Linked DNA regions of Homo sapiens. The protein of the gene in region 1 purifies or fractionates together with the protein of each later gene. This does not show direct contact. Each region holds a gene or a part of one and is shown on either strand. Other genes may lie near its edges. The genes, in order: LCN8 and NUB1.

Evidence for each region.
Region 2: the proteins of LCN8 (region 1) and NUB1 purify together in Homo sapiens (affinity purification with mass spectrometry; one large-scale study listed by BioGRID and IntAct). This does not show direct contact.

Annotation. Positions count from the first base shown.
Region 1 is NC_000009.12:136,755,158-136,759,537, reverse strand, and holds the start of LCN8 (epididymal-specific lipocalin-8), read left to right. Parts: upstream 1-1,294; 5' UTR 1,295-1,607; coding exon 1,608-1,631; intron 1,632-2,369; coding exon 2,370-2,500; intron 2,501-2,945; coding exon 2,946-3,016; intron 3,017-3,085; exon of another isoform or gene 3,086-4,021; coding exon 4,022-4,126; intron 4,127-4,204; coding exon 4,205-4,294; intron 4,295-4,377; coding exon 4,378-4,380. UniProt on the Homo sapiens protein: May play a role in male fertility. May act as a retinoid carrier protein within the epididymis.
Region 2 is NC_000007.14:151,351,665-151,355,470, forward strand, and holds part of NUB1 (NEDD8 ultimate buster 1), read left to right. Parts: intron 1-302; exon of another isoform or gene 303-529; intron 530-1,147; coding exon 1,148-1,218; intron 1,219-3,806. UniProt on the Homo sapiens protein: Specific down-regulator of the NEDD8 conjugation system. Recruits NEDD8, UBD, and their conjugates to the proteasome for degradation. Isoform 1 promotes the degradation of NEDD8 more efficiently than isoform 2.

The DNA.
Region 1 (4,380 bases):
TGAGAAGGCCCTGGCCGAGGGAGCAGGACGCAGGGGTGAGAGGGCAGGAGGCAGGGGTGAGAGGCCCTGGGGAGGGGCAGGGGGCAGGGGTGAGGGGCCCTGGGAAGGGGCAGGGGGCAGGGGTGAAGGGCCCTGGGTGAGGGGGCAGGGGACAGGGGTGAGGGGCCCTGGGGAGGGGCAGGAGGCAGCAGCCACTCTTGGCCTGTGTGGGGGCTGCACCCACAGGAAGAATGGAGCATCCTGGCCCAGTCCCTATGGGTCTGCAGTGCTGTGGGGAACTGGGCACCCTGTGAAGACGGCCCGGCCACTGGGGCTGTGCTGGGCACACAGGCCCCGGTGCCGGGGGGGGAGCTGGGGGAGCTGCAGGAGGCCGGGGAGTTAGGCCCACTTGGGTTTTGCCCCTCACCACTGATATGATCGTGGGCACCTGGTTTACACCCCTGGAAATGGGTCACCGTTGTGGCCAGGGGACTGCCAGCCAGCCTGAGCGCTCCACAGCAGACCCACAGACATAGGTAGCTACCCAGCGTACTCCTCATTTCAAAGATCAGGAAACTGGCCTGGCGCGGTGGCTCATGCCTGTAATCCCAGCACTTTGGGAGGCCGAGGCGGGTGGATCACTTGAGGCCAGGAGTTTGAGACCAGCCTGGCCAACATGGCAAAACCCCGTCCCTACTAAAAATACAAGACTTAACCGGGCGTGGTGGCGCACACCTGTAGTCCCAGCTACTCAGGAGGCTGAGGCAGGAGAATCGCTTGAACCCAGGAGGCAGAGGCTGCAGTGAGCTGAGATTGTGCCACTGCACTCCAGCCTGGGCGATGGAGCAAGACTCTGTCTCAGGAAAAAAAAAAAAAGAAAAAAAAAATCAAGAAACCGAGGCACAGAAGGGTTGGGTAACTTATCCAAGGCTGCACAGCCAGGAAGAGGCCAGGCGGGCTGCAAGCCTGGGTGATCAGGCTCCAGGGCCGGGCTCCACACTGCCCCCGGGTGGTGATGCCTGGTGCAGCAGAGGCCCTCCCCACTGTCACTGTCACTCTGGTCGCTGGCGCTGTGCCTCCGGCCTCCGGAGCTCTGACTGCCCACTGCGTCTGGCACACATTTCAAAGGGCCAGGCGTGGGGTGGCACAGGAAAGTGCTGGAGGCTCTGGTCCGTTGCCCATCAGTGCCCACAGCCCTCGCAGCGCAGGCCAGAACGAGCCCAAAAAAACAAGTGTCATGTGGGGTGGGGGTCACCGAGCCCCAGGTGGTGTGGGTGGAGCTCCTCTTCCTCTCAGGCTCCGAGACGGCCCCAGCAGCGTCCACCGCTGTCCATATGCCAGGAGGGTGGCTGGGCAGGCTGCTGTCTAGGCCAGGCTAACCCCTGCGGTGGGCGTGGGTGTCACCAGGGCCGATGGCGCTTGTGCAGAAACCCACGTCTCTGAGCTGCCAGCAGCCAAGCTGTCCTGATGACATTCCCGGGTGGGCGCACAAGCCTGCACTGTCCGTATAGAATCGGCCCAGGCTGTGCAGCAGGGGAACCCGGAGCCCGGACCCCGCCACGGAGGCCAGGCTGCCGTGCACCATCCTGGGTGTCCTCGTGGTGCTCCGGGCGCAGGTGGCAGCAGCCATGGAGGAGCTGGACCGGCAGAAGGTGGCTTCTCCTTCTTAGTTGGTGGGGCTCCTCCTACACCCCCAACCCCTCAGGCTCAGGGAAGGAGGCCTCTCCCGGTGTGGGGAGCTCGTGGGGACGCTGGTGCCCGGCTAGACACTTCCTGTTAGCGGCATTTTCTTCTCCGCTGAGTCTGTGCCGGCTGCTGGGCCAGAGGCACATTAGCAGGCCCAGAGAAGGTAGATGCCGGAGACGAAGATTCTTTCCTCCCGAAAATGGTAGGGTTTTTAAAAGTCTCAGCGGAAGTCCCGGCTCTGGGCGGGTTGCTGAGGGCAGGAGGCCCATCCTCTGGCGTGGTTGGCAGGCTGGCGAGCTGCGCTACCCGAGCCACCTGTTCTCTGGCGTTTCTCACTCCGCCGCGCCCTGCGGGCTTTCTTTTCCAGGCCTCTGCTCCTGGGTCCTGCCTCCGAGGTCAGGCAGGGCCTGTGGTTCCTCCCGACATGTCGCAGAAGCCCTAGGGACTGTTCCGCAGCTCTAGATGGCCCAGTGGGGAGGGGCTGCCCTGTGGGCATTGCTGTCTGATGGCCTGAAGGCACCGCTTGGAGGGACACATGCCTGGGGACAGTGGGCTCACAGATGTCTTGCTGCTTTGCCACCGAGCCTCACAGCCATCTGCTGACCTCTCAGAGCCCAGCAGGCCCCTGCCCGGGGGTTCGTGGAATGCCCCTGGGGGTCTCAGACCCACTGCTCAGCTCTTGGCCAGGCTCCGTATCTCTCTAGATTGGAGGATTCTGGAGGGAAGTCGGTGTGGCCTCCGATCAAAGCCTGGTGCTGACGGCCCCGAAGCGGGTGGAGGGCTTGTTCCTCACCTTGAGCGGGAGTAACCTGACCGTGAAGGTTGCATATAACAGGTAAGAGGCCTGGGGGCTGCTGGAGAGGAAGAGGCATGCATGGCCGGGGACTGGGCGTGGGTTGCTGCACCCGCTGCAGCGTGGGGTCTGGGCTGAGTGCCGTCCCGCTGGTGGGCCAGCACTCCCGGTGCCCGTCTGCCTGAGCCCTCGACCCCCAGGCTCCTGGATCTGCATTTTATCCCAAATATAAGCATAGTGTTTTAATGAAGCCCCGTGAACTTAGAAGGAAGGAAAAGGGGTGTGGGACAGGTGACTGGCTGGAGGGAACAGAATCCCCAGGGGAAGGCCCCACCTGGCACATTCCCCGCCTCATCCTGCTCCAGGCCTGGGATACTCCACAGTGCTGCCTGTGCCCTTCCTAAAGACACAGCCCCACTCCGGGAAGGAGCCCAGCAGGCGGGACACAGGCTAGCATTTTACCGATGGGCACTTTGCTGCCTTTCAGCTCAGGAAGCTGTGAGATAGAGAAGATCGTGGGCTCAGAAATAGACAGTACGGGAAAATTCGCTTTTCCTGGTAAGTGCAGTTGCCCTGTGATGGCAGGTGGAACCCGGCTGTGCACACAGCTAGGCCTTATTGTTCCCCATGCTGTTCCCTGCACTGTTCCCCATGCTGTTCCCTGCACTGTTCTCTGTGCTGTTCCCTGCACTGTTCCCCATGCTGTTCCCTGAACTATTCCCTGTGCTGTTCCCCATGTTGTTCCCTGCACTGCTCCCTGCACTGTTCCACATGCTGTTTCCTGCACTATTCCCCATGCTGTTCCCTGCACTTTTCTCTGCGCCATTCCCCATGCGTTCCCTGCACTGTTCCCTGCACTGTTCCCCATGCTGTTCCCTGCGCTGTTCCCCATGCTGTTCCCTGCACTGTTCCTCATGCTGTTCCCTGCGCTGTTCCACATGCTGTTCCCTGCGCTGTTCCCCATGCTGTTCCCTGCACTGTTCCCCATGCTGTTCCCTGCAATGCTCCCTGCACTGTTCCCCGCACTGCTCCCTGCACTGTTCCCCATGCTGTTTCCTGCACTATTCCCCATGCTGTTCCCTGCACTTTTCTCTGTGCCGTTCCCCATGCATTCCCTGCACTGTTCCCTGCACTGTTCCCCATGCTGTTCCCTGCAATGCTCCCTGCACTGTTCCCCGCACTGCTCCCTGCACTATTCCCCATGCTGTTCCCTGCACTTTTCTCTGTGCCGTTCCCCATGCATTCCCTGCACTGTTCCCTGCACTGTTCCCCATGCTGTTCCCTGCACTGTTCCCCATGCTGTTTCCTGCACCGTTCCCCATGCTGTTCCCTGCAGGGTTCCCTGCACTGTTCCCCATGCTGTTCCCTGCACATTTCATGCCCCAGACCTTCCCATTCTCCCACCAACACACTGGATCATCCTTCAAAAGCTTCTGTAGTGTCTCCAACCACTCAAGTGCTGGGACTGGGTGGGGGCAGGATGGAGTTAGACCCTGCAGACCCTGGCCTTCGAGGTCCGTCCCCCTCAGACGTCTCCCCCAACGCCATGGCCGGCTCTTGAAGGCCACAGAGAGATCCACGTGCTGGACACCGACTACGAGGGCTACGCCATCCTGCGGGTGTCCCTGATGTGGCGGGGCAGGAACTTTCGCGTCCTCAAGTACTTTAGTAAGCTTGGCCCTGGGGGGCTCTGCCCAGCTGCTGCTCTCCCAGGGACTGCCCGCCCAGCCCCCCTGTGCCCCACAGCTCGGAGCCTTGAGGACAAGGACCGGCTGGGGTTCTGGAAGTTTCGGGAGCTGACAGCAGACACTGGTCTCTACCTGGCGGCCCGGCCTGGTGAGCCCAGGGGCCTTGGGGTGGAGGCTGGGCTGGGCCCTGTGGGCTGACTCTGCAGCTCCTCATGCTGGCCTATCCTGCAGGGC
Region 2 (3,806 bases), on another chromosome or scaffold:
AGTGAGGACTCAAGACTTGCAAGCACTATTTCCTGGTGTAACTTCCGAGCAGGTGGGAACTCCATGCCTATCATATGGTAGGCACTTGGTGCATGTTTGAGTGAATGAGTGAGTGATACAAGCAGGAGACACCTGGTACTCACTAGCTCATTAGTTTTGAATTACTATTTTTTTTCCCTAATGTATTAATAGCTTGCTATGACCTTCAGCACGGTGTTTTATCTGATTTCAGGCTGTTGGCCCATCTGTAAAACACACACACACACACACACGTTTGCCACATACTAGTGAAATCCTAACTTTGAGATCTGGTGGGTTATTTCATCTCCTTGTATGTTTTAAAATGGTGTTTGGAGCACCTCCAGGGCTAGCTAGCGGGTGTATTTCTTCAGCTGATTTTTCTCATTTCCTTCTTTGGTCTACATCAGGGCTGTCAGGGGTGGATTCAGGAAGTGGCATGCAACACACATGCGTAGAAGACCCTGTGGATCAGCCCCCGCTATGGGCTTCTCCAGGGAGACCACAGAAGGTATAGGTAGATTTTCTCCGGATGTGCAACTAGGGCTTCCTGTTCACATGGATCTACAGCACTGTGGTCTCCACTGCCTGAGGAAACAAGCAGTAAAACGGAAAGTTTAAAAAGGACCTTGTCTCCTACAGTTTCAAATAGCCGTCTAGTAAGATGGCTTTATTGTGATGTTTGTGAGTCAGTCAGTTGAAATCCTGGGTGTTTCTGATAAAATGGATAAAAGAGCTATCATGATTAAAGCCTTCTTTTAAAAAATATTTATTTTTTAGAGACAGGATCTTGCTCTGTCACCCAAGCTGAAGCACAGTGGCATAAATATAGCTCATTGCAACCTCAAACTCGCGGTTCAAGCAATCCTCCTACCCAAACCTCCCAAGCAGCTAGGGCCACAGGCATGGGCTACCAGGCCTGGCTAATTTTTAAAAATTTTTTGTAGAGATAGGATCTCTCTGTTGCCCAGGCTGGTCTTGAATTCCTGGGCTCAAGCCATCCTCCCACCTTGGCCTCCCAGGGTGTTGGGATTACAGGCGTGAGCCACCGGGCCTGGCTAATGTCTTTTTAATGGATAATAAATCGCAATTTTGTTTTCCTACAATTTTCACTGGTTTTATTTTACAGAATAGCTGAAACCTTTGGACTTCAAGAAAATTATATCAAAATTGTCATAAATAAGAAGCAACTACAACTAGGTATGTATGGCAAAGTATGCATAATTTTTTAATGAACCAAATATAGAAATAATGACTTCCCTTTTTTTCTCAATGTCTTTTCAAAAATTTGTAGCTTTATTTCATTTATAATCCAAAAGTGATTTAGAAGTTTACTAAAATAAAAATGTAAAGCAGAAAATAGCTTTTCCAATAAATATTTACTGTCTGTTCTATGATAGTGGGAAGAAAGACACTCATTACAGCTTAGATAAAATGTTAGAGAATGGAATGTAAGGTGTGCTGAGTGTAAGATGCCAGTTCCAGCAAATTCTTCTTGAAGGAGAAGAGCTAAGGCTGTGTCAGGACAGTGGGGAGGCCATGGTGGCGTGCGTTCCAGACTGAGAGCCTTATGTCAGAGCACTATGGTGTGAATTTGAGGAACTGAGGAAGGTCCAGTGTGGCTGTGTGTGGAGAATGAGGGGAGGGGAGTGCTTTTTAAGGATGGAGGGGCAAGCAGAGGCCACACTGTGAATTCCCAGGAGACATTTGGCATTGTCTGGAGACATTTGTGGTGCTTATAACTTGGTGACGGGGGAGGTTGTGCTGCTGTCATTTAGTGGGTGGAGGCTAGGGATGCTGCTGAATGTGCAATGCCCAGAACAGGCCCCACAACAAAGACTTGTCCAGTCCCAGATGTCAGTAGCGCAGCTGTTGGGAAACGAGAAACTAGATGACCTTCCTCAGTGTTAGTACATTTCTCCTAAGATACATGGGAAGACATCTGTGCTGCGGAGTGATACACAATTCTGTTTGTGTTTTAGAAAGGTCACGCAGTAGGGGAATGTATTTGAAGGTGGCATGAGTTGACTTGGGGAGACCAGTTAGCTACTGCAGCCATCCATACAAGCACTGTAGCCCACTGGTTTCCAGTGCGTTCCTGTGGCCTCGAGAATGAAGTCCACATTTCTTAGCTTGATCTAAGACAGCCCTTCACAGCTCACCCTAGCCTTGCTTTCCAGCGTCATCTCTAGCAATTTCCCATTGTCTATTTTAGATGTCATGGATATCTTTTCACTGTTGCCTCATCCCTCTGTTAATTCTGTTTGTGGCATCCTTCATTGGACAGAAACCTTGATTTTGATGTCATCAAATCCATTGCCTATGGTTTGTGTTTTGTTGAAGTCCTTTCCCTAACCCCAGGGCCACAAGGATAGTCTACATTTTCTTGAATATTAGCTTAATCTATAAGAGGTCTTCAGTCTGTCCAGAGTCCCCCTTTCTATATAAAGTTTAAGGGTTCCTTTATTTTTCTTCCTATATAATTCATTAAATAGTCTGTCTTTTCCCTGCTGATTGGTGGTGACCCTTTTTGGGGGGCCCTGTTCCTATATTTTCTGTTCTTCCTACTCACCTGTGGTGTTTTTTATTACTGTGGCTTTGTTGCAGTCTTAAAATCTGGTGACCTCCCCCCACCCTTGCTTTTTTTTTTTTTTTAATCAAGATGGCTTAACCACTGGTGGACCTTTATTTTGTGTGTTAATGTTAGAAAGGTTGTCATATTTCTCAAAAGAAAAAAATCCAGCTAGTTTTCCAGAAATGTGTTCACATTTGTGTTTTTTAGTTCACAATATTATTTGTTATTTTAAAATCTGTTTGCATCTATGTTTACCCTTTTTTATTTTGTTTATTTGCATCTTTGACATAATTTTTGTTAGATTTGTGTATTTGGCTAATTTATTCATGGAGCCAGCTTTTGATTTTGTTACTGTTTTCTTTCATTCTGTTTCACTGATTTCTGCCCTTTATTTCTAATTTATGTATGAGGAAACTGAGTCCTAGAAGATAGGTAGTTTATTCAGGGCCACAGAGTTAAAACGGTAGATGGAGCCCATGGTCTTTGCTTTTATTTATTTATTTAGAGATAGGGTCTCTATCTGTCACCCAGGCTGGAGTGTGGTGTGCGATTGCAGCTCACTGCAGCCTCCACCTCCCAGGTGCAAGCAATCCTCCCACCTCAGCTTCCCACTGAGTAGCTAGGACCACAGGTGCATACCACCATGCCAGGCTAATGTTTTATTTTCTGTGGAGACGGGGTCCACTGTGTTGCCCAGGCTGATCTTGAACTCCGGGGCTCAAGTGATCCACCTGCCTCAGCCTGCCAAAGTACTGAGATTACAGGTGTGAACCACCACGCCCTGCTGGTCTTTGCTTTTAACCGTGACAGACTGCAGTACAGCTTCTTGTTTGTAGCTGTGAATTGGCTTTATTATTTTTTCAACTAGAGGGTAGGAGAGGTGTGTTATACTTTCTCATTTTCCGTTTATATTGTCTAGCACAATGTTCTCCCTGTAGTAGATTATCAAATATCTGTTGCTTTGATCTGGTCTTAGGCTGAGAATAAAGAAGATTAGAAAAGATGAATTTAGTTGATTCTATTGTCGCTAGCTGATTTTAACCACTGCTTAACAGTGACATAGTTACAACCAAATGTAGGCATATTTTTACCAATTATGTGGCGTGATGGTATGCAGGATTAAGAATTCCATTTTGTCCAGGAGCAAGGCCTGATGTCTGTAACCCAGCACTTTGTGAGGCTGAGGTGGGAGGATCACTTGAGCCCAGGAGTT